Regions from separate parts of the Homo sapiens genome. Here all the other regions are reported to be linked to region 1. Evidence: microRNA targets listed by miRTarBase, many of them from high-throughput screens and not tested one by one. Region 1 holds a microRNA gene; each other region holds the end of a gene's coding sequence. Distances are between the middles of the regions.

Region 1 (5,075 bases):
AGTAAGGAAAGAGAAGGGTTCAGATCGTTACATTTCTTCATTGTTAGTCTGCCCCTCACCATTAAAAGGACACACCTCGAGGGCAAGGATCCCATCAGTTTCAAGACAGTATGCCACATTTCTTTTGACCAACTCTTGATTCCTTAGTATTTCCCAAGGTTTTTTATCGTAGAGTGTTAGATATAAAGCTTGGTTTGGTCCTCCTCTCTGTCTATTATTCTCTGTGTTTGATTCTGGCTTTAGTGAAAAGGACTGGATTTTGTTTGACTGATGTTTGTTTATTCATTCAACAAACATGTACCTACAATCAGAATCCATCTCTCAAGGCACATGCAGGTGCCTTGATACATAGATACATAGATAATGTACATAGAAAGATACATAGATAATGGTGCAGAATGATGCGAGGGCTACATCCAGGGTAGCATGGCACCTCTGGGAGGGGGAGTGCCATGCAGCCTGCTGGAAGGCAGTGTCGCAGCAGCTGAGCTGCCAAGAATGCATAGGAGTTGACCAGACAAGGAAGGTTGGGGAGATGATAGATGCTGCGACTCAGTGGCTTGAGCAGAGGCTACGTGGGGGGAGGCTTGGGAGATGAGGTTAATGAAGAGAGAAGGGTGGGACCGTGAAAGTCCCTGGAGTGTGAATTCTATCCTGAAAACCACAGAAAACCTCTAAAGGAAATTAAGCAGAATGACTGGCTTAGATTTTTGTTTTTGGAATGAGTGTCCACAGTTTGGAGAATGGACTGGAGTAAGACGGTCCTGATTGGGAACAACAAGCTCAAAAGCAATTGGAACAATTCAGGCAAGAAGTGCTGAGAATATGAACTAAGTCAGTGACAGCAGGAACTGAGAGAAGAGGGCGTATAGCAACAACAACAAAAATAATAAGAGCTCACATTTATGCAGCACTTACAACAAGGCATGATGCTTAGTGCTTTCTGGGTATTAACTCATTTTATCTTCACAGTAACCCTGAGATAGCTTTGTTATCTATTATCAACCTCATGCCTCACATCAGAAAACACAGTAGAGGTTAAGTAAGGACCCCAAGATCCAGGAGCTATTGACGAATGAGCCACAGCTCAAACCCGGCTGTCTGGCTGCAGAGCCCACACTCCTAATGTCCATATTGGCAACTCTCCTAATACAGTTACAGACAGAGGGTCTACAGGACTGGACACTGAATGGTTGAGACAGGGGAGACTCCAGGACAATTTCCAGAGATCTGGCTTGGGTAGGTAAACATGTGAATTTCAGTTTCTTGAGCCTCCTCCCCAGATCTGTCCTTGCCCCGCTACCGCAAGTACCCACACTCCCACCATCACACCACACCCCCTCTCCTTTGTAGTCTGCATCAAGGCCTTTGGCCATAAAACACGGGGATCTCCCAATTGGAGTGAAAAACCTCACAAGCATTTCCACTTAGGTCTGAGAAACCCCTGACAGCAAACTCTGCTCTTGGTAATACAGTGGCTTAGGTCTGTTATTTTCAAATCAGCCAGAAGTAGGAAAACTTTGAGCGAGCTTGTGTGGTTTCCTTCTGAGAGAGTGAGACCTTGGCTGCCTACTTCTGTGTTTCACCGTAGCTGCCCTACGGAACAGAACATAGACCTTCTTGCGGGGCTAGCGTGTAAGCACAGCAGCACACCAGCCGCCTCGCCTGCGGCCTCCGACAGACCCGCAGGAAGAAACTGACCCTGGCAGGAGCTCTGCAGAGCCAAATGGCATTCTTTCTCCATGCACAAAAGTTAAAGCAAGCATCTGCAGCATTAGAAAAAAAAAAAAAAAACTTGTGTATTTCCTGCGGACAGGGAGACCTCCTGCCCCTCCCGGGCTGATACAACCCACTTTGCACATCCTGCTTCTCTGGGAGCTAAAAATAAATCGGTATGCACTGAAAAACACTCAAACACATCTCCCCAGCACACCCTTCCCAAGTCCTCGAGCGCAAGGGACACGAATCTTTCAGGTCCTGAGTCCAAAATGCAGACCACTTCCTCGTCCGTGTTCAACCAGCGCCTTTCGGCCTCTCCCTTGGCCCCCTCCCCAGACGCCCACGCCCCGCACTCGCCTCCTGTGGCCTTTCCGGGCAGACTCCGCAGGCCCGGGATCCAGCGGGTGCCCCGGCCCCCGGCCCCGGCCCCGGCCCCCGGGGCGGGATGCTCCAGAGGTCCCCGGGCCGCCAGGCTCACCAACGCCCCCTTCTGCCCAGCGCGCCCCATCCCGCCGGCCCCACGCGCCTCTGCGCGGCCCTCTGCAAAGTTGCTCTCTCCTTTTCTGCCGCCCACCCTCAAGGTCTGTAATTTTGTTTTGTTTTCCCTCAGAGGCACTGGGGGAATGACAGAGGAATTGACAGGGTGAACTGCACCCAGGAGGGAGCTGCTGGAACCAGGTTCCCAGAACCGCGCGCTCCTCGAACCCACCCCTGCGCCCGCGGCGCACCGAGCGCACGGGTCCCCCCCAGCAGCCGCCCCCGGCACACCCGCCCCGGCTGCAACTCCGACTCCGCTCTGGCTCCCGAGAAGCGGAGGGAAGGCGCTGCGACTCACCGCCTCGGCCGCTCCCAGCGTCTGTGTCGCTTCGGGCGAGGCGGCGGCAGCAGCGGCAGCGCCTTCCCTCCGCCCGCCTCCCCCTGGACAGCACCGTCGCCAGCCGCGCCCCCCTCCCCAGCCTGGCTCGCCGCCTCCCTCCTCGCGGCCGCAGACCCCCTCTCCACTGCAGCCCCGCAGGCAGCCTCTCCGGCGTGGGCTTCACCGCGGGGTTGCAGGGGGGCCAAGATGAGGCGCGGGATTTGCAGGTGCAGTGGACGCCCCCCCCCTCCCCCGCTTGCCCTGGTGCAGCCTCCGGGCGTGTCCCCACGGTGCCCCATAGTCCTAGCTCACCGCCCAGGCCTCTAGCCAGCCTGCACTGCTACTTTCCAAGGGGTGCCATCTGCTTGCCTCCTCGGGTCCTGGGAGGTCAGATTCAGCCTAGAGCACCTCCTTCCAAGCTTCGATTTGAGGGGGGGTCTGGGGTCCCTGCTCTACCGCAGTGAAGTTCAAGGGAGCCTTGGAAGGCAGTTGAAAAGCTTCTCAGGTGGTGTCCTCTGGACTCTTCATGCCCACAAGGTGGGAGGGGGGCTGCTTTTGTCTAACTAGTGCTTTCTCTACCCAAAGCCTTCTGTAAACTGTCTAGGAAAAGCTTAACAAAAAATCCGGAGGAAGACATCTAAGGGGCCCCTCTCCTGCCCCTCCTTCCTCCCCTCAAATTTTTCATCTCGTGTGGAGATAATGAGAAGCAAAATGTCTTGTCAATTCATTCACCCAATATTTATCGAGTACCTGCTGGCTGCCAGCACCTGTTTCCTGTCTTGCTGTGTCGTCCACTCATGGCCTCTCAAAAAGCCACTGTAACTAACTCCTTGTGCTTGTCAACCCTGGTGACATTTCCAGAACCCGCAGAAGGTCTCAAGAGCAACTCAAATTCATCAATTTAAAAAGTTGCTGCTTAAAAATAACAAGGCTGCAAAGGCACCGTGACCTGGCCTTCCTCGTTGTAATGTTTGCAAAATCTTTTAACATGACTGGTTATAGAAAGGACAGTTACATTGAGGTCCAGACAGCTGCCAACTCTGATTTAAACACCAAGTAAAAGTTTCATCTAATCAAAAGCACCCTTTCCTAGCTCTACCGGTTGCCTTCAATTGTAAAACAAAAATTATCTAGGAGGCTGTTAAACCATCATCAAATACTAAAACCTTTGCTTGCATTGGGTTAGCAGGTTAGCCCAGCATTTCCCTTCCTGGACACACAGGAGGAGAAATGCTGGACTAATCTGCTAATCCAATGCAAGCAAAAATTTGCATTGGAAAGTTGGATTTTTTGGTTTTTGGTTTTTTCTTTTTTCTTAATACTAGGCCCGACCCCGAGAGAATCTAATCTAATTGTTAAAAAAAAAAAAAATCCGGGGTTCAGGGGTGTCCAGCTTTGTATGGGTATTTTTTTCACATGGGCCCCAGGAGACTCTGATGTGTGGCCAGGGTTGGAAACCACCATAGGATTAGCCAATCATCAAGCAGGGCCTAAGGGAACGTCCCGTTGATACAGCAAAAGGTCTGCACAGGTGTTGCAAACTCAAATGTCCCTGAAGGATAAAAGCAGGTGACAAAGAAGTAACTTAAGTGGTTATACAGGGACAAACTGAGAAGGGCACAATGGCCCTGAAAAAGGCAGCCTCATTTTTCTACGTGGGAAAAGAGGGTCCAGTGTGGCCATCAAGTCGGGGTATTTTATTTTATTTTGGTTTGGTTCCCCCTGCCCCCAAGAGAAGCCAGAAGTTCACGTTTAATGTGAACTCTTCTAATTTAAAAATATTAGTAACTTATTTTTTAAATATTTTAAAAAATTTTAAATATTTTTTAAATATTTCTCTATAAGCCAAGAAAATAAGAATTTGTAGGCCACAAGTGGTCCCCTGGTCATCGGTTCGTCACCTGTAGTCTGGACAGATTCTGTGCATAGGAAGCAGTTAGGAAGGTGCTTGGGGTGGGATTCCTCAGAGAGAGAGGTGATTTTAAAGTCCACTTTATCTACTTTTCTTTATTGATGTGATTTTTCTTTAATGATCTCTACTGTTAAAAAAAAAACAGTTTTGCTGAGGTATAATTCACACATCATACTATTCACTCAAAATATGCAATTTAATATTTTTTGCATATGCAGTTAGTTGTACAAACTATTACCATAGCCAATTTTAGAACTGATTTTCATCACCCCATAAAGAAATCCCACACCTATTAGCACTCATTCCCTTCTTTCCCCAACCCCCAACTTCCAGTGACCACTTATCTATTTTCTCTCTATGTAGATTTGCCAATTCTGGACATTTTATATAAATGGAATCATACAATTTGAGGACTTTGTGACTGGCTTCTTTCACTCAGCTTAATGTTATCAAGGCTGTCTCATGTTGTAGCATGCATCAGTACTTTGTTCCTCTTTATGAACAAACGATGTCATTGTATAGCTCTATCACATTTTGATTATCCATTTATCAGTTGACAGACATTTAGGTTGTTTCACTTTTTTACTA
Region 2 (5,075 bases), not on the chromosome of region 1:
TGTTTATTAAAAATACCAGAAGAAAATACACCCAAAAGTTGTTATCGGCTGTCTTGATTGGTAGGTCATAGATAGGAAGATCACTTAACATGTTCACTCTTTTCTCTAATGAAAATGTATCATTTTAATAAAAAAGAAACAACACGCGAATTTCATAGGCAAACCAACGATGGCAGAATGGTAGGTGGGACTGTGGGGGGAGAAGTGTTTATTTCGGAGGTCTAGAGGTTCCCTTGGGGATGCCTTTAATCCTCTTGGTCCTGCTCTTTGTTTGTGAAAAGGGCATGGTGCTGCCCTTCCCTCTGTCTTGTTCTAGGTGGAGTTTCTAGTGTGTCTTGTTTGGACTGTTGGCCCATTTTTATGCTGTTCTTGGGTTGACATGCCAGTCTCTAACTCTCTCTCTCTCTCTCTCTCTCTCTCTCTTCTCTTTCTTCCCCTTCTTCATCCACCCGTTCCGATGTGTAGCTGACAAGGTCAATGACGACTTCTACACCAAGCGACGGCACCTGGCTGAGCTGGCTGCCAAGGGGAACTTACCTCTGCACCCCGTAAGAGTGGAGGACGAGCCCCGGGCCTTCAGCCCTGAGCACGGTCCTGCCAAGCAGAATGGACAGAAGTCCCGCACCAACAAGATGCCCCCACATCCCCTGGCCTACACCTCTACCACCAACTTTAAGGGCTGGGACCCCAACGAGCAGTCCCTCCGGCGGCAGGCTTACAGCAACAAGGGCAAGCTTGGCACGGCCGAGACAGGCTCCAGCGACCCCTTGGGAACTCGCCCCCAGCACTACCCACCCCCACAGCCATACTTCATCACCAACAGCAAAACAGAAGTGACTGTCTGAGCTTTCACCACAGGGAGCACCCTGGAGACCACACTCAACTGAGAGAGGCAAAAAACAACCCCGCCCACACCCTCCCCATCCTCCCCTAATACATGCGTCCACACACTCACTCTCAACAAGAACCAACTCTAAACCTACTGGGGACACAGAGTCGCGCTTTTCCTAGGTCATGCCTGTAACGTGTCGGCGGGCAGCTGAGAAAGACCGAAGCGTGGACATTCAGCAATACAGCAAAGGGGAAAATGAGGCACACTCTTTCCACTTCAGGCCCAAGATGGCCAACTCACATGCCCAAACCGTGGGGCTGAGTTTTCTTTTCCTCCTAACTTGAAACTGAAATCCATGGTGACAAAATATAAAAGTAGCACAATTTAGAGAAATTGTCCATTTGAGCACATACACTACTTGCCACGTGCTGTCTGTTTCTAGGTTCGAAAGCCAGGGTGGAAATGGGGGTAGAGAATGAGGGAGGACACAAGAGAAGAGTGTATTCTGGAAGAGGAGTTGTTCTGGGAGGAATTTGCCCACATTAGAAGCATTTTTCTAATTCCAAGAAGTGGTGACGTGGACGTAAAATTTTGACGAGCATGAAACAGTAACTGGACCCCAACCATTCTATTTATAGTACTTTTCATATCATCCATGTTGAAAGCAAAAAACAACACACCCTCAAACTCACAGAAAGTAAATAGACCCTGAACCCACCGACAATGATGGGAAGGAAAAAACAAAAAACAAAAAACATTTTAGAGAACTCCCATAAGGACCATGACCGTGGAAATGGGAGGGATGGGCTTTTACGGAGAGGGTCCGGAGAGTATCAAATAACTTTTTAAAAAGAGGATTAAAATGTAAGCCCACTACAAAACAGATAAAAACGGCAAATTAGGTGTTTTTTTTTTTTCAAAAATCTTGAAGACTTGTTGACATTAACAACAACAAATCCACAGTTGGAAAAGTCCACAGGAGATCAGATGAGGATCCAGAAGCCTCTGATTTCTGGGTTTTGCCTCCAAGACCTGAAACAGCCACAGAAACAAGTCCTCTATAAACTGTATGTCCCTGACATCCCTTTCCCTTCAGCGCGTTGCCGCCGCCGCTGCCAAACTTCAACTGCTTTGGACTGAAAATGTCATAAGCGTGGGTGGTGCCTTCAATGTGTTACTGTTGTTTAATGACAGTCTTGTTTCCCAAGTGCAACCTGTGTTCTTTTAGCCTTCCTTCCTCTTCTTTTTCTGCAGTAGTAGAAGATGTTTCCATCCTTCCTTTGTAGGTGAGCCCACCCCATAACACCCTCTGAGGGGCTGCTACAATGTCAGGGGTACCCAAGAACGAAGACCTCCCTACTCTCTACACTATCAAAATTAGTCCTTCCATTTTCTAGCCCTCTCAAACCTGTCAGATGTTTCTTGGTCCCGTAATTCCCATGGTCCCTCCAAATTACCTCCCCACATACTTCATGTGTTCATCTCCCATCCAGAATGTCCTGAGGTTGTTTTTCTGGTTGGTTCTCATAATCCATAGTCCTTGGGGTCCCAGCAAAGTCAGTTTTCCTACAAGTTGTGTTTGTTTTGTGGAAGCCCAAAGAAGTGGATTGAGAGAGAAGAGATTTTTATCTAAGGTGGAAGGTTTTTCAACTAGCCCCTAAAGGTCTTTGGTAGTTAATTAACATTCAACAGACCCACAGCAACTCTGGTGTCAGAAGCTATAAATGGTCTGGCCAAACAAGACTCAGAGTATTTTCTGAAATCCTGAGCTGCAAGGTTCTGCCTCACCTGTCTCTCCACTCTGACATCACGAAATCAGCAAAACCAGATATTTATTCTCCTCACTCCCAGCAGATACGAGGACACCAACAATGCAGTTGATCCCTCTGGGCCTGAGTCTCCCATCTGAAACATGGGGAATTGGGGTAGGTCAAGCTTTTTGAAACTGCAAAACCTCTACCTGTTTTTAAAAATGAGATCTTTTGACCAGGCACAGTGGCTCACACCTAAAATCCCAGCACTTTGGGAGGCTGAAGCAGGTGGATCATCTGAGGTCAGGAGTTTGAGATCAGCCTGGTCAACATGGTGAAACCCCGTCTCTACTAAAAATACAAACATTAGCTGGGCATGGTGGTGGGTGCCTGTAATCCCAACTACTCGAGAGGCTGAGGCAGGAGAATCGCTTAAACTTGGGAGGTTGCAGTGAGCTGAGACCACACCACTGCCCTCTAGCCTGGGTGACGGAGTGAGACTATCTCAAAAAAAAAAAAAAAAAGAAAAAAAAAGAGATCTTTCAAAGAACGCATAATAGGAGATCTCCATGTATAAAAAGGTACCATGCTGTACAAAGCTGGGGTCAGAGATTTAGTGCCCACCTTCTCAGCCTCCTTGGGAAGACCCCAGAGCTTCCCAGAGTCAAGTAAATACCACTGGGCATGGTCAGAGTTTCCTTGACGTTAATGAGCTATGTACCTGCAACACACTTTGGCATCTCTGTATATCACCTTCACAATATTTGTATCTAAATTGATTCATTTTAATGCATTTTGTTTTTAAAATGAAAACTTCCTGTCTTCATCACAAATTTAAAAAAAATCATCAGTTGCCATAAATAGAAAGCAAACATAAAAATAAGTACAAAGGAAACAAGCAGCGATGATTAAATTCCAGCTGGAGTCTGTTGTCTGTGAGTCTGAACTAAAGCCTGGGGTTCTTTCTTTCTCTCTCCATCTCTCTGTTTCTGTTTCTCTCTCTCTCTTAAAATGATATCATCAGGTATTAAATAATTGTTAAAAATACCAGCACCCAATGAAGACTTTCTCTTTGTACTAATAAGATGGACCAAAAAGTAAATGAAAGGGGAATCATTTCCTATGCAAGTCAGTGTTGAACAATGCTGTAGCTATGTACTGCCTATGATCATTGTGCATACACTAGGGGTGCATAGCCCACACTTCAGAAAACCCTGGGTTGACTTATCTGTGAGGCTCTTTCCAGCTCAAAGTTTCCATAATTCTTATCTCCCTTTTACCTCGTGGTTGCTCTTTGCCCCCAGTCCACTTCGTCCCACCCTTATCTCAACTCTGATTAAGAGTCTTTCTTGGCCTCTAAATCTGTAGTATTGTATTCCTTCTGCATGCTCCTTCTCCTCTGAATAAACTTCATCAATTGAACTGGGCTCCTTGGGGTCTGCAGTTGTAATTTTGGCAGCAAAGGTGCAGACTGGTCATTAAGATGTAGCCACAATGATGGCCCAAGAAGGACACGTACTTTCCAAGTAGTCCTGTCTAGGATGGAAAGCTCAGGAAGTGCTTCATAGTTTATTATCTTCCAGTTGGTTTTGGGAGATGAACTGAAGAGGGAAGTTTGGATAGGGAAGGTCTTTTTATTCTTTTTTTTTTAATGTATCCATGGAGTATTTATTATTATTATTATTATTATTATTATTATTATTATACTTTAAGTTTTAGGGTACATGTGCACAATGTGCAGGTTAGTTACATATGTATACACGTGTCATGCTGGTGTGCTGCACCCATTAACTCGTCATTTAGCATTAGCTATATCTCCTAATGCTATCCCTCCCCCCTCCCCCCACCCCACAACAGTCCCCAGAGTGTGATGTTCCCCTTCTTGTGTCCATGTGTTCTCATTGTTCAATTCCCATCTATGAGTGAGAACATGCAGTGTTTGGTTTTTTTGTCCTTGCGATAGTTTACTGAGAATGATGATTTCCAATTTCATCCATGTCCCTACAAAGGACATGAACTCATCATTTTTTATGGCTGCATAGTATTCCATGGTGTATATGTGCCACATTTTCTTAATCCAGTCTATCCTTGTTGGACTTTTGGGTTGGTTCCAAGTCTTTGCTATTGTGAATAGTGCCGCAATAAACATACGTGTGCATGTGTCTTTATAGCAGCATGATTTATAGTCCTTTGGGTATATACCCAGTAATGGGATGGCTGGGTCAAATGGTATTTCTAGTTCTAGATCCCTGAGGAATCGCCACACTGACTTCCACAATGGTTGAACTAGTTTACAGTCCCACCAGCAGTGTAAAAGTGTTCCTATTTCTCCACATCCTCTCCAGCACCTGTTGTTTCCTGACTTTTTAATGATTGCCATTCTAACTGGCGTGAGATGGTATCTCATTGTGGTTTTGATTTGCATTTCTCTGATGGCCAGTGATGATGAGCATTTTTTCATGTGTCTTTTGACTGCATAAATGTCTTTTGAG
Region 3 (5,075 bases), not on the chromosome of region 1:
CATATCAGCACTACTTTATCAGTCTTCTATATAACACCTCACTGAAGCATAAATGTCCATCAAACAGGGAAGAAACGCTCTCATTATATTGAATGATCAGAGAATGATCTTTGTAACCACTCAAGTATTTTAAGTGGCTGCAAATGACATGTTTGGTATCCCCTTGTCCACTCCTGATACCTGACCCAGATGAGAAGGACTCATTAGTGCAGTGGATAGAGCCTGGGGACATCTGGGAGATGGAGTCAGGGCCTAGATTTGAGTTCTGGCTCTGCCACTCACTTGGCTGAATAGCTGTGTGATTTGGAACAAGTGCCTTAACATTTCTGAATCTCGATTTCCTCATCGATAAAATGGGGGCTTAAAATAGAACCGCCATCACGGGGGTGCTTTGTAAACTGTGACTTGCTCCTGAAATGCAGGGATCATCATCCGCATTGCCTCACTTGTGACCTTGCTTGCTGGCTTTCTTTGTCCCTAGCGGATGACCACCAGGCTCTCATCTGGGACATCCAGCAAATGCCCCGAGCCATTGAGGACCCTATCCTGGCCTACACAGCTGAAGGAGAGATCAACAATGTGCAGTGGGCATCAACTCAGCCCGACTGGATCGCCATCTGCTACAACAACTGCCTGGAGATACTCAGAGTGTAGTGTTGGTGGCGCTGTGCCCACGAGGCAGGGGCTTTTGTATTTCCTGCCTCTGCCCCACCCCCAAAGTAAGAAGAAACATGTTTCCAGTGGCCAGTATGTCTTTCATTGCTTTGCACCCACTGTTACCAGAAGCTGCTCTAGGAGTTCCTGGCCAGTCACCCCATCGCCCTCTGTGGCAGACTCAGTGCTGTGTGGCGCCTCCTCAGCCCAGGGCTGAGTTTTAAGATTTTCTCTCCTTTCCTCTTCTCCTTTGGTTCCTCAATTAAAAAATGTGTGTATATTTGTTTGTCAGGCGTTGTGTTGAGGAGCAGTTCACGCACTGGCTGTGTCTATTCCTCTGCCCAGGTGTCTCTGTTTGCTGCCCAAGGCAGCAGTTCATGTCTCGTCCATGTCCATGTTCGTGTTAGCACTTACGTGGGAACAAATACCAATTTGTCTTTTCTCCTAGTATCAGTGTGTTTAACAAATTTTAACTTTGTATATTTGTTATCTATCAGGCTAATTTTTTTATGAAAAGAATTTTACTCTCCTGCTTCATTTCTTTGTCTTATAGTCCTCCCTCTTTGCACCTTCTTCTCTTCCCTCAGTGCCTGGAGCTGGTACTGGGCCCCTGGCCCCATGAGCAGTTTGCCTTCTTGAGTCACTGCCTGTGTAGTACATACCTGACCGGGAGTCCAAACCACCTTGGTGCTCTGAAGTCCACTGACTCATCACACCTTTCTTAGCCTGGCTCCTCTCAAGGGCATTCTGGGCTTGTAAACAGACATAGGAAGCCTCTGTTTACCCTGAAGCACCACTGTCCAGCCCATTGGTTCCCACTGGCAGCATGGTAGAGCTGAGAGAAACAGGCTCTCAGGGTACCTGACTTGAGGGGAATCGTTTCATGAAGCTGAACTTCAAGCATATTTCCAGTACATTCTTTCAGAGTCTGTTTTTCCATCCAAATATAAGCCCCAGGCCATTCCACTTAGTGTCTTTTCAATGATAGGCAAGAATGATATCTGAGTTGAACTTCGGTGCTTCTGTTGTTTGAGTTTACTGTGCCTGGTGGTATATTGGGCATTCTTTGGATTGAGTGTTCTGAGGTGAGAGAGTCTTCCCGAGGCATCCTGTCTGTGCTTCCAACCCTGAACAAGACCTTACATGAGAGATGGACTGATGGACTGCGGCAATCCTGGGCTGTCAAGTGGATAGATAGTTAAAAAGCATTATACTGTGGGTAATGAAAAGGGAGGAAAAAAAAAGAAGGAAAAGGAATTATAGACCCCCAGGGTCAGCCAGTTAAGAGCTCTACCCACACCTGTCAACCCCTCTCTCCCCCAGTTTAGGTTCTGAGCAGTATTGGACTTGTAGCCTGCAGTTGTCTTTTGACTTGCAGGCCGCAGGTGTCTTTCTGTTATGTGAATGAGTTCCATGGAGGGGCATATGTGTGATTCCACCGTTAGATGAGCCCTTGGGGCAGGCAGTTTGGGATGTGCTCTTGGGGGAAAGTTGGCTGTTTCCTTGCGCTCTGCTCCTACCCGAAGGTTTTTAAGTCCCTCTGAATTGCTCATCTGAGATTAGTAGAGTAGCAGGCCTGAAGGATGATGGTTTTGTCCTCTTTGGTTCTCACCTGCTTGAGAAGTAAAACAGTAACTTTGTTCTTCTGGGCCCTTAAGCTTTTTTGGTTAAGTCTTCCTTTTCAGAAGTAGATGTCATTATATGCCAAAAGTCTAGCTCTTTGCTTTACCATACAGGGACCTGTCCCAAAGAAAAAGGCTCTTTTTTTAGCCAGCATATTTCCCCTTCTACCCTTTTACTTTGTTGTTCTGATTTTAGGACTCTGGCTGGCCATGTGCTTGTGGTTGCCTCTCCTGCATTTGCCACTGGATTTGCACTGCATCGTTTGGAGATACAAAGCGAGCAGTTCTTGGTCAGAACCCTCCTCTGCTTTTCATTGTGTTTGATAATGGTTACTGGGTCCTTCTCTCAAGGGTAGCAAGGCCAAGCTGATGGCTGCTTGTTTAGGAGGCCATCAGTTCCTTCCTGTGGAGAAGGGTCTGAAATGGAAGTCAGTGGTAGAAGGGGCTGGTCTGCTGGGCAGGGCTTACATCCACTGAGTTCTAAGATTCCTTTCCTGATCTGCACCTACGCCTGGTCTGTATGGTGGAATTTGTCAGCTGGAACTCAGAAACAACAACTTGAAAAAAAAATAATAATTAGAACATATTTGCATAAGATAGCTATTTACTCTGGAAACCAACAACTTTTGAGATTTCCCTTGCCCTGTGGACGCCCAGCTCCTGTCATCCTTCCTTAGGTCCTGCAGTACAGTCTTCCCCTGAATGCCACCGGGGACCCAGGGGGACTCCACCCCCCTAAGCAAGCACACACATACTCACAGTTGATGAGTTGCTGGTCTTTGAGTCCCAGCTCTCTTACCCTCCCTTTACTCCACCAGCCCGACGACCCATGACTGAGGAGGGGATTTCTACAGTCTCAGGATTTAGAAAGTCTGTAAGCCATCCATGCTCCAGAAAGCACCGATCTGTTGTAGTTGCAAAAACAACTCTGTAATTTGTTGAGGTTCTCAAACTGACAGCCAGCGAGACTGGGTGGGAGGCCCTGGATCTGTTCTCCCTGACTGCGGGAGGAGCAGCCACTAGGACTTTAGCAGGAAGCCCACATGGAGGCTCCGCCAGGCTGTGGCCCAGCTGGTGATGGCCCTTTTGCTCCTGGCAGCCTGAGGCACAGCTGCCTGTATTGTCCTCATCTGTTCTGACTGAAGGATGGAGGTGCTGAATAAATTAGGCCTCAGGCCTCTACCACCAGAGAGCTGGAGAATGGGTCCACGTCATTCAAGGACCTGAATTTTTTATGCTCAGGAGCATTGGAATCCTCTTCTTCCAGGGAGGAATTAGCCTGCAAGGTTAGGACTTGAAGAGGGAAGGTATTTAATAACTGGGCGAGGATGGGTGTGGTGGCTCACACCTGTAATCCCAGCATTTTGGGAGGCTGAGGTGGCCAGATCCCAAGGTCAGAAGATCGAGACCATCCTGGCTAACATGGTGAAACCCCATCTCTACTAAAAATACAAAAAAAAATTAGCCGGGGGTGGTGGCGGGTACCTGTAGTCCTAGCTACTTGGGAGGCTGAGGCAGGAGAATGGCGTGAACCTGGGAGGTGGAGCTTGCAGTGAGCCAAGATCGTGCCACTGCACTCCAGCCTGGGCGACAGAGCAAGACTCCGTCTCAAAAAATAAAAAAAAAAAAAAAATAGGTGAAAATTCCTTATAAATCCAGGATTGGCTCTGAGAGAACTGGCTAAGATTCAGGAAGAAACAAAAAATTCAGAATCCTACAAGGTTTTGATGACAATTAGGGCCAAAATTTTAGGAGGAGATGTAGGATGCAGGAGAAAATTAAAGTGTTTTCTTTATATCAGAGGAGGAAATAGTAGAGGTCAGTGAAGGTCTGGGGTAGGGAAACATTCAGACTGTCCATTGCATGGCTGTGGAGTGAGACTGCCCTTAGCCTGGGTCAGCCTTCCTGGGCCATAAATTGGGCATCCGTGATGCTAGGTAACTGTGGGAACAAAATGACAGCTTAGAGCAGCCATGGGTGATGTTTGGTGGTAAAAAACCTACAGGCGTTTGGGGTCCCATGATTGTTCCAGACCATGACTCTTCCTGGTTGTGGGTTTGTTACAGAGCAGGAGAAGCAGAGGTTATGACAGTTATGCAGACTTTCCCCCTCCTTTTTCTCTTTTCTCTTCCCCTTGCTTTTCCACTGTTTCTTCCTGCTGCCACCTGGGCCTTGAATTCCTGGGCTGTGAAGACATGTAGCAGCTGCAGGGTTTACCACACGTGGGAGGGCAGCCCAGTACTGTCCCTCTGCCTTCCCCACTTTGAGAATATGGCAGCCCCTTTCATTCCTGGCTTGGGGTAGGGGAGACCATTGAAGTAGAAGCCTCAAAGCAGACTTTTCCCTTTACTGTGTGTACTCCAGGACGAAGAAGGAAGATCATGCTTGATACTTAGATTGGTTTTCCCAGGGAAGAGGGCGGAGCAGAGCAAAGTCACTGTGAACCCTGGGCCAGGCCCTGGCTGGGCCAGCTCCTGAGAGCGTCTCGTGTTGCAGACCCTTGCCCACTTCACCCACCTGCACCTTCTCCCCCTCTCACAGTGTCACTGCTGCTAATGGTCAAAGTCAAATGTGTGGCCACATGGGATGGGCCAGGTCCTCTCAGGCTACTTTCTGGATGTCATTTTTAAAATATGGAAACATGCAGGTGCCTTCCCAAAGAGGCTTGGACTGGTATATCCAACGAGAAACAAATAAGCTAAAGAAAGTTTAAACTCAAGAAGAAAGATGTTGACAGTCTATGTAACAGCTGGAAAGTTTATAGGCACCCACCTTTGGGACAACCCAGTGATTATGAAC
Region 4 (5,075 bases), not on the chromosome of region 1:
ATTAATCAACTCATCTCAAAATATTCTCAGTGCTAAATTGAATTAATCAGGGATGGCTAGATTATCTGCCACTGTGACACAAAGAGATTTAGAAAATCTCAAATAATTCCTGTAAGTGCTTATACTGGGGCCTCATTTAATTAAAATATAGGGCAAACATTGGATAAACCAGGTAATTTAAAGTGGCTAATTTAATCATCAGCTGGTATGCTGTGCTCAGAATGTTGTTTATATGTATACAGTGTGGGTCTGAGTCAGTGATTATATCTTTAGATGAAAAATAAGAATATAGATTGGTTTTCGTTGGTTTAGGTTTGGGTTTGTTATCCTTGTTTTCCCTACTCCATTTCTTACATAAATGTTTTTTATTTAGCAAATGTGAGAAGTTAAGTACCATGAATTAGATACGATCCAGTGTATTACCGTGTATTTTTATATAGCTTTATAAAATTGGAAAAATAACCTTAGATTGCTATGTTGGCAATATGAACAAGAACATAGAGGAAATAGCCCTAATCTAAGTAGAGCTTAGGAAAGTTTTTAACAGGGGTGAGTGACACTGAAGCAAACTAGCCCTTGAAAGATGAGTAAGAATTCACCAAAGAAAAAAAATAATTGAGACAATTTTTTTTTAAGTAAAATATTTTTATAAAGCTTTTAATGCTACTTTCTGACCTACAGGTGATGAAGGGAGTATGCCAGCAGATATAGCCACATTACTAAAAACATCAATGGGCCTGTGAAATAAGAACTGTGAACTCTCAATTGATGAGGAAATATCAACTTGGTGCACTCAAGGACATTTACATTATGATGACCATGGGGTTTATGAACATTTATAACTTTTTATAATTTCCATATTACATTTCTCATAGTATGGACAACTTTTTGCCACTAACTGAATTCTCCAAATACTCACACGTGAAATTTCAAAAAAGAAGCCACAAATATGTAGTTCTGAAGATGTTGAATAATCATTTTACAAAGCAGTTTTCTGAATGGGGATTAGTTGGTGATTGTTTGTAACAAATATGCTAATGCTTTAGAAATGTCAGTATTTTTGTAATTATTTCTACCTCCAAATATATATATATTGTCTTTCACTGGATAATGTGTGTAGATTTTTACATGTGCCTTATTTGACAATGCTTATGTCTTGTTTTTGCTTGTCTCATTTGAAGTTCTTTTTTATTATGTTAAAGAATGCAGCTGTATAGATTATATAGCTTTCATTTTATTGCTATTTGAAGCAGATGTTCACCAATGTCAGCAAGAACTCAACCTGAATTTAAAGGTGGCATTCCATATACTAACATCCCCCAGGTCCTCTCAAGTACTTCTGCTGAAACAAATTTATTTGGCTAGGCACTAAGTTGTTTTCCAGTGAATAGTAACTAAAGAAGCCCCTACCTTGCTCCATGGATTAATTCCTTCTGTTCATTTTCCAACTGCACTAATTGTGCATATTACTCTGCCTAATCTTGTGCATGTTTTCATTGATTTCCCTCTCCCGGCTTTTGCTTCTCTTGAAACTGTTGCCCAGTCACTTCTGCTCCAATTCTCTTCCTCTCTAAATAGTAGTTTATTACTGCCACATCTCCATGCATCAGCAAAATGTTGGTGACATTTTTCTAGCCTGGCAGAACAGATTACTTAAAGCTATTTCATTTCAAAGCAGACTGAATGTGACTTCATCTAAAGGCAGCATTAGGTACTGCATGGAAATAGGTCATTAACTTGAAACTCTTATCAAAATATATTTTACCAGTTTCCAGAATTTCCAGTACAGGACCGCCTGAAGAGAGAGCCATTGTTCAATTCCAATTCAGTGTGAGTGACAAAGTGAAATTTAGAAGTGAAGTTGTCTATTTGATATTTAACTCTTTATTAAATCTTTCTTTAAATTTCTGCCTGTCAGTCTATATTGCTGTTTTTATTATACATCAGTTTCTTTGTATAACTTGTGAGTTCCATGTGTTTTGTTTTTATTATGTAAATATCATTATAAATAAACTTATTTATAAATCAAAGATTTGTTAATTTTTGGAAATCATGCTTTTCAAAGCATCCTAACTTGCTAAGATGCTAGGTAGTACGACCCTCTGGATTTGGAAGGCAAATAAAACTCTTACAGTGATTATTTAGATATTAAAGACTGAGAACTCACGGCTTAACCCCAGTCTTGATGGTATATTGAACAGACTGAATATATTTTACCATTACAGGGCTAAAAGGAGTCTTCATGTGTTAATACTACCTCCTTGTACATCACTATACCCAAATCAGTTATTCAAATTGTTAGGAATTTTACCTTTTAAAATCTCATAATGGATATCTCATGTTTTCTGTATTAATGTATTTTCAATGATAGGCTGTTTCTTTTTTTGTTGTTATTGTTGTTGTTGTTATATCCATACTTTTATCTCTAATGAAATGTAGTTGGGTTCTTCCTGTAATGCGCTATTATGTCTTGGGCTTAATAAAAATATTTGTGATCATAAGTTGTATTTTCACACCCTTTTTAATAGTTTCTAACCCTTCCTCCTCCTACCCTTAAAATCATATAATATTGGGCACAAATGAGATTATCTTATGTGCTTAATATTGCCTGTTTGCCAGTAAATTGGAACTTACTACTTAGGATGTATTCTCATTGGTTCCTTCATTGGACTGATGTCAGTAAATACTGTAACCCATTATCACTACAGAGCAAATGAAGCGAGAGTTGGAGTAATATCTTGACCAACTGAAGCATTTTTTAAATGCAAGCTACACAAAGAAGACATGCCTTATGCATTTTTATAACTGTTTGGGACCCCCATAGAGTTTTAACTTTATGCCAGTAGATACTTACTTTGAAACATTACTGTAGTTCCTAACAGTTGGCATTATCGTGTAGTGGAGAGACGGGGTATGAGGAGATTTGGTTTCCATTTGTGTGACCTTACGTGTGATACTTCACAGTCCATAAATTTAAGGAATTCGGATTGTTTTAACTCTTACCAAAAATGTATTTTTGAAATTATAAATTCAATATGCAGTTCACTTTCTGCTTGACTTCACTCTCGCTTAGCCACCCTCTCTTTGTATAGAAGCAAAGAGACATTTAATTTGCATACACAATGGGATAATGGAATGTATTGTCCTTCAGCGCAAAAAGATTACCTAAAGGTTATAATAATGCTAAATATTTCCTTATGAAACTTGCTGTGGTTATACTTTATACTTGTATTATGATTTGTATAAATAGGATTATCTTATTTTGAATTTTCATAATTTTGTATAAGCATTGGATTATCACTTTTACTTAGTTCTGTCTTCATTAAAGCTTGATGTGGGGGAAATTTAGCTATGCAGAAGAGTGAAGAAAAGCTAACTACTTTTATTATCTAGAACATTATTTGCATTTCTTTTGTTAAAGGTAATTTTTCTTCAGATTGCCTGGATTACATGTTGGAGGGTTTTGAATGAGATTCACATACAACCTATTATCATTTACTTATAGCAACTAATAACAAGAAAATTTGATCCAAAGAATCAAGGTACTTAGAAAATACACTGTTTTTATGTGTAATCCTTAATAATTTATATTTGTTATTGTTGTTGTTGTTGTTTTGAGACAGAGTCCCTCTGTCATGCAGGCTGGAGTGCAGTGGCGTGATCTCGGCTCACAGCAACCTGTGCCTCCCAGTTCAAGTGATTCTTGTCTCGGCCTCCTGAGTAGCTGGGATTACAGGTGCCCGCCACCACACCCGGCTTATTTTTGTATTTTTAGTAGAGATGGGGTTTCACCATGTTGGCCAAGTTGGTCTCGAACTCCTGACCTCAAGTGATTCACCCTCCTCGGCCTCCCAAAGGCTGGGATTACAGGCGTGAGCCACTGCGCCCGGCCTAAAGTATTAGGTAACTTTTTTTTCAATTTCATAAAACATTGAGAGGAAAGAAACACCTTAAATAAGATCATACCTATCTGGGCTTTTCTTTTCCTCTTCTTTCTTTCTCCCCAACATCCTCCTCTCTTTTTTGACTTCTTAATTGTGAATAAAGCTTCTGTAAATATATGTGGACAGGTTTTTATGTGGACATGTTTTCAGGTCCTTGAAATAAATATCAAGGAGCACAATTGCTAGATTGTATGATAAGCATATGTTTAGTTTTATAAGAAATTGTCACTGTCTTCCAAGGTAGCTGTACCATTTGTACTCTCATCAGCAACAAATGAGAGTTACCCGTGCTCCACATCCTCGTCAGCGTTTGGTGTTGTCTGCTGTTTTGGATTTTTTACCATTGTGACAGTCATATAGTGGTATCTTGTTTTAATTTGCAGTTCCCTAATGACATTTTGTTGGGCACCTCTTCATATGCTTATTGCTACCTGTATCTTTGTTGAGGTGTCTATTGAGGTCTTTTGCCCATCTTTTGATCAGCTTGTTTGTTGTCTTATTGTTGAGTTTTATGAGTTCTTTGTGTGTGTGTGTGTGTGTGTGTGTGTGTGTGTGTGTGTGCAACATGGCTGTTTATTCCACCTGGGTGCAGGTGGGCTGAGTCCGAAAAGAGAGTCAGTGAAGGGAGATACGGGTGGGGCCGTTTTATAGGATTTGGGAAGGTAATGGAAAATTACGGTCAAAGGGGGTTGTTCTCTGGTGGGCAGGGGTGGATCTCACAAAGTACATTCTCAAGGGTGGGGAGAATTACAAAGTCCCTTCTTAAGGGTGGGGGAGATTACAAAGTACATTGATCAGTTAGGGTGCGGCAGGAACAAATCACAATGGTGGAGTGTCATCAGTTAAGGCTGTTTTTACTTCTTTTGTGGATCTTCAGTTACTTTAGGCCATCTGGATGTATACGTGCAAGTCACAGGGGATGCGATGGCCTGGCCTGGGCTCAGAGGCCTGACATTCCTGCCTTCTTATATTAATAAGACAAAACAAAATAGTGTTGAAGTGTTGGGGTGGTGAAAATTTTTGGGGGGTGGTATGGAGAGAGAATGGGTGATGTTTCTCAGGGCTGCTTCAAGCGGGATTAGGGGTGGCGTGGGAACCTAGAGTGGGAGAGATTAAGCTGAAGGGAGATCT
Region 5 (5,075 bases), not on the chromosome of region 1:
CAAGCAACATTTTTTTTTAAATAACATCTTTAATTAAAGTTTTTGCAAAGTAGAATATTAAACTTAAAATAGGTCTTAGTACATCAAAATACTAAGTTCTCTAATTGTATTCCAAGATGGTCTTTAAAACATAATATCCCATATATCACAGAAGAGCAACCTTGATCTGCAATGAATTTTACAAACATAATAAATATATTTACGCCATTACACATAACAGTATGTACAACAGCAGTTGACAATAGTAGCTCAGAACAGCAAAAAGGATTAGCCCCGCCCCCCAAGTCATAGTCCTGATGTAGACTGGACTGATTAAGGAACCTTGACTGAAAGAGTAGTTACTAACTCAATGTGTAGTAACTTCCCTTAAAAGAGAAAAGTTTTTTTGTTCCTCAAAATAAACAAAAATGTTAGTTTGGTGTGTTCTTCATTAAACCATAGACAATGACAAAAGACAAGAGTAAGGCAGGCTTAAAAAGGGAACAATATAAACTTCGTAATAATTTTCATAGCATAATAGAGGACTAAAATGCAAAGCTATTTAACAAACTCATGAGGAAACAAGTAAAGCAACTATTTTTTAACTAAAGAATTCAAAATCTGCTATAGCTGATTCTGACAGGTAGGTGAGAGAAAGACATGAAATAAAATGAAAATGTACAAAGATGGATCAACAAACTATTACATTGCACAAAAGCTTAAAAAAAAGAAAGTTCAAGATGAAATAATCGGAAAAACAGGAATTTTCTCAAGTAGAAGAAAATGCTAAGTCATAAAGAGAACTCCCAAGAGGAAATTATGTCTGTTTTCCTATACAAGGGGTATTTACCCTCTGATAAGAATGGTGACATTATTGCTATGAGAATCAAAAATAGTATACTCTTAGAGGGAGACAACTCTTTTCATTCCTCCATAAAAGCCAGGAAAAAAAAAATCTGTGACTTTCATTATAGCAAAAGAAAATATTCATATAAAAGCTATATGTTATTTCCTAAAACCAGAATCTATTATGCTCATTAAGCACACATTTTAATTACTACACACTGCTCAAGTCTTGATGTAATCTTAGAACAAGAAAGTGGCTTTGCTTTTAAAAGAGGCAACAGTGTAAATGTGACATTATGATGGCATTTTAATTAACAGAAAGAAATGTGAACATTTAAAAAATAGAAAAGCCCAACATAAAGATCCCCCTCACATAACAGACATTTTACTCTAGAAATTAATTGCACATTAAAGAGTTGTTTTAGCCATATGTGGCACTCCACAGAAATTAAACATGCTCTCAGGCATTCAAATGGTCTGATTACCCAAATGGCCACCAAGCAAGAGTTTGTATACTGAAAGGCACACATTTCCATGTTTTATCTTGTAATTTTGTGTAAATTTTCCTTAGCACTGTTGATTAATGTTAATTTAAGTAAAAGGTGCCATCGCCATCTGTGCAAATCTAAACAAATCCTCTCCAGAAACCATTACTTATTTTCATAATACCAAGTCCGAACTATTTTCTGCCTTTAGATAAACATGCTACTTTCATTTTCAAATTCTGAAAGTGGAAATCCCTTGCCTTTTCAAAGGAATGACATTTTAATGGAACCTAATACGAAATGATTTGTTAAATACAATGTTAAAAGCATGATTAAGAATTCAAGTACAATAAAAGATAAGCAAGTGACATTCTTACAGCAAAAGCTACTATAATAAAACTAAAACATGCTATTTGATTAAAAAGGACACGATGCAAATAATATATAAGAGCACAATTTGGTATGCAATGTAGCTTGGACCAGCTTTCAGAATTTTCACAGGTAAAAGAAAAGCATTTGCCAAGTATACCATAATTCATATGCAATACGCAGGTGCAAATACAAATGGTTATTTCCTGCTTCAAAAATAACAAAATAACCACTCTGAAAGCAGTGGTTGTTAATATTTGAAAAATAAAGTTATAAAAACAGGCCAGTATACAACACTACTATGAATATGAATGTTTGTCTACATAGAGGGCCCAAGACAAGCTGAATATCATACAGTAATCCAAGTTTCAGTAGCATAAAAACTACTAGATAGCCAAAGGGTTTCACTTAAGCAACACTGCAGCACTGCTGAATTTTTATAGGTAGTTCAGGTCACTGACTTCCTTACTGAGTAAATACAAACCTACTAGCAACTATATTGAAGAACAGTTGAACAACAGCACTTCTGTGATGTTACTCCCTCCCATTTCCTCTTCTCTCAGTCTTAATAATATATATTTTAAAACCTCTGTGTGCTTTGAGAGTCACAGAATAAACAAACTTCCCCTCAAAAAACTAAATTAATATAGTCAAAATAAAAGCTGTATTACCAGTTATGGCATCTAAATAAAATCTAACTACTAGCATGCTAGACACCACCATTAACACCAAAGTTTAGAACATAAGTTAAAGAGATCAAGGTGGTAAGCTGGGTGGGAAGTAGAAAAAAAAAATTTTTGCCTTTTTTTAAAGTTAAAAGATTTGTGTTAAAAAAGAAACACTATATAATAGCTCACAGTTTTCTTCTCTGTAATGTACTTTAAAAAGTGTTCATGTGTTACTTCTGAAAACACAAAGGCAAAAGGAAGACAAAAACTGAAGATTAAAAAAATATATCAATATACAAGTAACCTAAACACATGTAAATTTTGTCAAGATAAACCATGGAAAGTTGAATTCGTTGTAAGAACACAATGGTGAAGACAAGCATTCCTGCAGTTCTCCCAGGCAGTGAATTCACACTGAACACAGCAGTGCCATATTGTTCTTCAGAGCCCCTTACAGAATACAGACCTATGCATTCTTAATATACATATTACATTTCTATTATTTTTAATATACAAGTCAAATTTCTATGCTTTCTTCCCAATGTGCAAACTGGAGCCAACGTCTTTATTTTCAATGGCCTGGAAGGGCCACCAAATGAAAGAGAGGTAACTTAGTGGCCCACCCACCTCTTCCCCCCAAATTTTCCCCTCAAATTACAAAGTTGATTTTAAAAACTTGTTGAATTAGAATAGATTTTTAAAATTCTTTACTAGTAAACACAAGAAACTTTTATAATTACTAAACTGTTTAATAAAAATCCAGGTCCTCACCACCTGCCCTATGCTAATCAATGCACAGACTGTTAACTGAATGTTTAGCTTAAAAACTAAACACATTTATAAGCACACACTTCAGCCCAACAGGAAAAGTCTACATATATTCATGTGTATACAATTTCAGCTAGATGGTATGCTTGCAAAATAAAACTATATTCCTGAGGAGCTAGTTTGGGGTTTCTTTTTAAGGTGTGGCACTAAAAGAAACAAATTAAGTTTTTCTGTAAGGAAATTAAAGTTGTGGTTTCAATTCCACTGAACTCAGACAAGACCCAAGTCTTTAATTACATTTAATAAGTATGAAAACCTAATTAAAATAAATATTCATTCCTGGGTCAAATTTTATCTCCAAACTATGATCACTGATAACTTTAAATCTTAAATAGATGTTTCATAAAGCTGGAAAGGAAGAGGTATATATCACTGAGGGAGAATAGCAAGTAAAAATATTTAAGACCTATTATGAGAGTTTTAAATTGTTTTCTTATACAAGTGAATTAAAATTCAACACAATTCTTACCCTTTTGTAAAAAGCTCACACGCAACTTTTACCAAATATAACCACATACAATAAGCAGTTTCAGTTCAATCTATCAAAAGGGAAGTTTCTTCAGTTCATTCCAACAAGTATCTTCTGATTGAACCCAAGTTGGAGGAAGGAATATAGACAAAGCTTTACATGCTAATTACCGGTGGCAGGTACCTGTATTTAAAATCAACAATTATGGTTTTCCTACACAAAACCCCAACCCTCCCACCCAAAAACCCTAGGTGCTACAGTTCCATGGCTTGCCAGTAAGTAGTGTCTATGTTGTCAAGGTCTATCTTTGTTCCAGTAGCTTTGCTTCTACTGCACTTTTCTGACATGCAGAAACGAAGTTTTGGTTGGCATATGCCCCAAGTTTCAAACTGTCCGCTTTACATTTTTTTTAAGTTTCTTTTATTTATAAAAGAAAAAAAGCAACTCTTCACCATTCTGCATCTCCAATGGCTTTGGAAAATATATAATCTCTTCCATTAAGATTCATAATGCCATCCTTGAGATGAAATTTCCATTTGTTTTTACTTCTGTGTATCTAAACAAAAACAACATTTTAAAAATTGAGAGATACAATCAGAAAACAGAGAAAACAAGTAACAAAAAACCCATACACACACACACGTACACACACACCCCCCCACAAAACAGTATTTACAGTATTGTATTTGCAAATTGGTTTGTTTTTGTAGAAGAAGGGTCTCCTATGTTGTGCAGGCTGGGCTCGAGCTCCTGGCCTCACGTGATCCTTCTATCTCAGCCTCCCAAAGTGTTGGGATTACAAGCGTGAGTCACAGCACCTGGCCTAAAAATTGGTTTCTTAATAAAGTTTAATTTCACCAAAAAGAACAACAACAACAAAAAAACCACACACAAAACTCACTAGGTGGGTCTAAAAACAAATTTATCTGTAATTAGTACTATTTTATAGCTTTTAGTACTTGTGTTCATTAAAGTAGTTAAAAAATATTTCTTTACAAAATGTCTTATCTCTCTACCAGGTTTGCATATATATTTTCAAGGTCTACCTCAAAAAGACTATCCTCCACAAAGCTTTCCCAAATCTTACCAGCTAAAACTATTCTTTTCCACTGTTAAATTCCCAATGGTATTTTCATTGACATTTCTTACATTATTTGTAAGTAATACAATTATGGACTCATTTCTTCTACCAAAATAAAACTCCTTATAGAGTTCTCAAGACCTAACTACCATGGAACCTTATACATAGCAGTATTTTAAAAATACATCTAAAGGATGCTAATCATCCAGTCACTTACACCAGATTTCAAAAACTATGTACATCCACAGTTAAACAAAAAGAGCTGAAGGGCAGGCTCTGGGCACTCCCATCTTTGCCTTCACTTATAGTCCGTAGTTGTTTGTAATTCCATGGATTTGGTGGGGGAGAGG
Region 6 (5,075 bases), 71 Mb from region 1:
AACAGATCTGTAGTTTGCTACATAAATTCATTTTCTACCTTTTTTATAGATTCAAAAGAGCAAGTGGAATCTCTAAGAATGGCTTCCAGCCACTGGAATGAAACCACTACCTCTGTTTATCAGTACCTTGGTTTTCAAGTTCAAAAAATTTACCCTTTCCATGACAACTGGAACACTGCCTGCTTTGTCATCCTGCTTTTATTTATATTTACAGTGGTATCTTTAGTGGTGCTGGCTTTCCTTTATGAAGTGCTTGACTGCTGCTGCTGTGTAAAAAACAAAACCGTGAAAGACTTGAAAAGTGAACCCAACCCTCTTAGAAGTATGATGGACAACATCAGAAAACGTGAAACTGAAGTGGTCTAACACTCTATAGAAGATGAACAAAATCTCTGAAAGCAGCTCAACCTCTTCTGAGAAAAAAAATATATTCTGAGGCCAACTGTTGCTACAAAACAAATTCTGACTGAATGGTTAAAACATTTCTAGTAGAAGGGGAAAAAAAAGTTAAACATGCACTGTTTGTGTGTATAGCCATTTCATTAAATATACAGTAAAACTTCATGAATGTGAATTTACTAATCTGTTTAATACTGACACTTCAAAAACTGGATAAAAGATTCCTAGAGTTCAATATTAAGCAGCAAAAGATAAGCTGGAAAAGACAAGCAAGGCTAATGATGCTAAAATGATTTTATAACTAACCAATTCATGTAGACAAAAAATAGTGTGTTGGTAACAAAAAGGCTATTTAAAACATGTTTCTAAGTCTGAAGTAAAATACTTCCACTTATATATATAAAGTTCCTATTTATTAAAAAGTAGTATTTTCTAATTTACTGAAAACAACTTATATAAATATATAATGACTTGAGTTTTATGTAGGATTAGTATGAAAAAGTCTCAAAATAATCAAAAATGCCACAAGTATATTTGCACAAAATTCTCACAAAACTGACTTACTGTTTAGTTAGAAATGCATGATATAGGAAAGGCCTAGTCTATTTTCAAACTAAAACTTACTACTACACCCCTTCATTTCCTGAGTTTGTTCTTTCATTTTACCTCTCTTATTTATACTCTCAAAGGCTAAGATAACCAAGGCAGAAAGACTGCCCCTCCCCCCATCCCCCCAAAAAAGGTCAAAAGATAGGGCCACTCAACACCTGTTGAAATATGGCAGTTTTATTTCTTGGAATTCCAAGGGCTATATAGATATTTTGTGACCCTAACACTATTTTGCTATCACCCATGAGCAAACAAAAGCATGCTCTTAACCACCACACTACCCCTAAGTCAGAAATGCCACTCCTGGAAATGTATCCTAAGCACTTAGTTCAAATGTACAAGCTCAAGGTACAAAGATTTTTTACAATGGCATTACTCAAAATAACAAAAAATTGAAAATAACTAAGACTTTAACTAAATGTGGCACATCAACTTAATGAATTATTAAAAAGCAACTGAAGGCCAGGCACAGTGGCTCATGCCTGTCATCCCAGCACTTTGGGAGGCCAAGGCGGATGGATCACAAGGTCAGGAGCTCAAGACGAGCCTGGCCAAGATGGTGAAACCCCGTCTATACTAAAAATACAAAAGTTAGCCGGGCATGGTGGTGGGCACCTATAATCCCAGCTACTCGGGAGGCTGAGGCAGGAGAACTGCTTGAACCCAGGAGGCAGAGGTTGCAGTGAGCCGAGATGATGCCAATGCACTCTAGCCTGGGTGACAGAGCAAGACTCCGTCTCAAAAAAAAAAAAAAAAAAAAAAAAAAGCAACCGAAAAGTCTGGCAAGATAGACAAGTATTTAAAAGTAAAAAATAAATTCACCATATAAAAGTTTTAATACAATTATTGATATTATAAATATACACATGAGTAAGGTTTGAAAACAAATATGGAGAATTAGAATAGCTGGTATATTAAGAGGGCTGTGGGGACAAAAAAAAGCACTAGGTATTATAAAAGACTTTTTTTAAATCTCTATTACTGATGGAATTTTTTGTGTGCAATAAATAACTGTGTGGTGAAGAGAGGAAATCTGTTCTTTTCAATTTAAAGAATATCGGCTGGGCGCGGTGGCTCACGCCTGCAATCCTAGCAGTTTGCAAGGCCGAGGCAGGTGGATCACCTGAGGTCAGGAGTTCGAGACCAGCCTGGTTGACATGGTGAAACCCCATCTCTACTAAAAATACAAAAAAATTAGCCAGACATGGGAATGGGGCCCCTGTAATCCCAGCTACTTGGGAGGCTGAGGCAGAATCACTTGAACCTGGGAGGCAGAGGTTGCAGTGAGCTGAGATCATGCCATCGCACTCCAGCCTGAACAACAAGAGTGAAACTCCGTCTCAAACAAACAAAAGAATCTTAACTGCCGGTCTGAAATAACTCTTCCACAAAGTATTTTTTATATTTATTCTCACATTAGAAACAAACACAAATAATATAACCAACTTTAAAAGGATTTGTGAAGCTTGGATATATAAAATACTTTGGAAACCAGGAACTGAGCACTGTTAAAACCATATACATTTTCACAAACGTTGGATTCTTGGCAATAGATGGTAAGTATACAAGTCCTTTAATAATCAGATTTTTTAATAGTGTACATTACCAACTTTCTCCCCCACCCTATCCTGTAATTATTTAGTCATCCAACAAATATTTACTGAGTGCTTACTACATGTCAGCAATTAGGCCAGATACTGAGGGCAGAGTGGCAAACAAGGAACCACGTCACTACAATGGAGCACATTGGAAGCTCTGTCAAAAAGAGTAGTGATATGGGAACTCAAAGGTTATACAGTGAATTCACACTGAAGAATGAGAATAATATGACTTTTAAGCTGAAACTTAAAAGAACAGGACAGAACCAAAAGAGGGTAGGAGGTAAGAAAGAATATTCCAGGAAGAAGAAATAATACGAATAAAAGCCAAGAGGCAAGAGAGAATAAAGCATGTTGGAGGAGCTACAAGTCAGTATCACTAGGACAGAGTACAAGGAGAACAGTATGATACCACACCTAAGAGATAATTAGAGGCCAGATGAGGCAGGCACGCAGGCTGCAGTAAAACATGGACTTTATCTGAAAAACAGTAACAATCAGCTTGAGCTGAAAGCAACATGATCTAATGAGAAAAATCACAGCTGTATGAAGAATGAACACTAAAGCAGCTAAACCAGGAGACCTGGTCAACAGCTAACCTAGCAATCCAATGACCGTGGCCTGAACTAGAGTGGCATGGTAGCCTTTAGTTGTTACACCCAATATTTCCAGCTCTCTTCATTAAGGAAAGCATTCACTTCAGAGCCCCCTATGGCTGGGAACATAACTTTGGCCAATGAGTGACTTGTGACTAACTCTGGCCAATGAGCTGTGAGAGGATGTGACATGTGTCACCTTCAGGCCACAGCACTTAACTGCTAGTGCAAGCTCTTCCAGAGTTAGTTTTCCTGCTAGCACAGAACTCACAAACATTTGAGCTTCCAGCTGCTCTGCCAGCCTGGGTCCTTGAGTGACTATAACTAGCTAAGACTTCTACCAATCCATGATAAACATGTAGTATGAAGGAGAAACAAGCTTCTGTTGTTTTAAGAAACTGAGATTTTTGGGATTGTTACCACAACACAGTTTATCCTACCCTGACTGTTAGGGAAAACCCTGGCCAACCAAAGAGAAGTAAAACCCTACAAGGGCTCTTCCTGCTGTCGAATGGGACCTGTTTGTGGGGAAGATGAAATTCGCTACCCAATACCTGTAGCCTAAACTACAAAATGCAAAGACATTCTTGAGCAGGTCAAAGGCTCAAGTGGCTTAAGCCTGAGAGTGGCTATGTTAATGTTTAAAACAGTTTTTACATTTTTGTTTATGATGAGTTAATTCTATGTACATTTCATTGGAACGACATATAAACCTAATATATATTATAAGAATGACAGGCCTACTTTGATTTTTAAAAAAGCTTTGCTTCCAAATCAGTTATAAAACAGCTTGTAGGATGTGTAAAAAATTAACATCAATAAAAATTATTATTGCTACAATTTGAAGTAGCTAAATAATTTCAGCTGTGAATTAAGTTCCACTGACATTGTTTAAAAGATAATAATGTAAGAGTAAACTAAACCCAAAGCAAGCAGAAGGAAGGAAATAATAAATACTGATGTGGAAATAAAAACAAACAAACAAACAAACAAAAACCAAAACAGAAAAGCCAATGAAACCAAAGGTTGGTTCTTTGAAAAAAATCAACAAAATTGATGAACCTTTAGCTAGACTCATCAAGAAAAAAGGGAGAAAAGACAAATTCCTAAAATCAGAAATGAAAGAGGACACTGGGTGAGGTGGCTCAGGCCTGTAATCCCAGCACTTTGGGAAGCTGAGGCAGGCAGATCACCTGAGGTCAGGAGCTCAAGACTAGCCTGACCAACATGGCAAAACCCTGTCTCTACTAAAAATACAAAAATTAGCTGAGCGTGGTGGCACACACCTGTAATCCCGGCTACTCTGGGGGGCCTGAGAGACAGAGCAAGACTCCGTCTCAAAAAAAATGAGAGGGGATATCACTACTGACTTTATAGATATCAAAAGGATTATAAGGGAGTACTTTGAAAAACCTCAGACAATGTAAATGATGAATGAATAAACTTCTAAAAAGCCACAAAGTACCAAAAGTAACTCAAAAAGAAATAGAAAATCTGAGTAAACTGAAAAGAAAAAATTCTTACAAAGAGCTTTCCACAAAGGAAAGCTGAAGCCCAAATGGCTTCACCAGTGAATTCTATCAAACATTTTAAAAAATAACAAAGTTTCACAAACTCTTTCAGAAAATAGGTGAAAAGGGAGCACTTCACAAATCGTTTAAGGAGGCCAGAATTACCCTGAGAGGCACCAGAGAAAAACGAAACTACATACACATCAAGTCCCTCAGGAATAGAGATGCAAAAATCCTGACCGAAATACCAGCAAATTGAGTACCACAACAAATAAAAATGATTATACACCATAACCAAGTAGGATTTATTTCAGGAATAAATGCAAGGTTGTTTGAACATCTAAATATCAATTAATGTTAAT

The links. Region 1 holds the annotated microRNA hsa-miR-5680 (GAGAAAUGCUGGACUAAUCUGC, at 3,801-3,822, shown strand). A microRNA usually pairs through its seed, bases 2 to 8, with sites in the 3' UTR of a target mRNA and lowers its output. Matches are read on the target gene's strand: a 7mer-m8 pairs with bases 2 to 8, a 7mer-A1 pairs with bases 2 to 7 and ends in A, and an 8mer does both.
Region 2: miRTarBase lists SHISA9 as a target of hsa-miR-5680. Seed matches in the 3' UTR shown: 7mer-A1 at 4,815-4,821 and 7mer-m8 at 5,006-5,012.
Region 3: miRTarBase lists DCAF7 as a target of hsa-miR-5680. Seed matches in the 3' UTR shown: 7mer-m8 at 1,190-1,196 and 7mer-A1 at 3,121-3,127.
Region 4: the mRNA of SMARCAD1 is a reported target of hsa-miR-5680. Seed matches in the 3' UTR shown: 7mer-m8 at 864-870 and 7mer-A1 at 1,069-1,075.
Region 5: the mRNA of GTF2A1 is a reported target of hsa-miR-5680. Seed matches in the 3' UTR shown: 7mer-A1 at 1,217-1,223 and 7mer-m8 at 1,146-1,152.
Region 6: miRTarBase lists SMIM18 as a target of hsa-miR-5680. Seed matches in the 3' UTR shown: 8mer at 481-488.

The regions. Positions count from the first base shown.
Region 1 is chr8:102,121,683-102,126,757 of GRCh38, forward strand. It overlaps MIR5680 (microRNA 5680), which reads left to right and starts at 3,750; the gene lies at 3,750-3,833. It also overlaps a transcript of NCALD not described here. RefSeq lists silencers at 2,035-2,224, 2,595-2,654.
Region 2 is chr16:13,234,565-13,239,639 of GRCh38, forward strand. SHISA9 (shisa family member 9) reads left to right here. Exons shown (of 5, transcript NM_001145204.3): 5 at 466-5,075. The coding sequence ends at 845. Among named protein-coding and RNA genes, the nearest start is that of SHISA9, 340 kb to the left of the region's middle.
Region 3 is chr17:63,588,519-63,593,593 of GRCh38, forward strand. It overlaps DCAF7 (DDB1 and CUL4 associated factor 7), which reads left to right. Exons shown (of 7, transcript NM_005828.5): 7 at 482-5,075. The coding sequence ends at 654. Among named protein-coding and RNA genes, the nearest start is that of TACO1, 9.8 kb to the right of the region's middle.
Region 4 is chr4:94,288,792-94,293,866 of GRCh38, forward strand. It overlaps SMARCAD1 (SNF2 related chromatin remodeling ATPase with DExD box 1), which reads left to right. Exons shown (of 24, transcript NM_020159.5): 24 at 682-2,501. The coding sequence ends at 743. Among named protein-coding and RNA genes, the nearest start is that of HPGDS, 52 kb to the right of the region's middle.
Region 5 is chr14:81,176,131-81,181,205 of GRCh38, forward strand. It overlaps GTF2A1 (general transcription factor IIA subunit 1), which reads right to left. Exons shown (of 9, transcript NM_015859.4): 9 at 1-4,200. The coding sequence ends at 4,093. Among named protein-coding and RNA genes, the nearest start is that of TSHR-AS1, 8.3 kb to the left of the region's middle.
Region 6 is chr8:30,645,232-30,650,306 of GRCh38, forward strand. SMIM18 (small integral membrane protein 18) reads left to right here. Exons shown (of 3, transcript NM_001206847.2): 3 at 50-833. The coding sequence starts at 79. The coding sequence ends at 366. The region is part of intron 2 of GTF2E2 (general transcription factor IIE subunit 2); the gene reads right to left. Among named protein-coding and RNA genes, the nearest start is that of SMIM18, 9.2 kb to the left of the region's middle.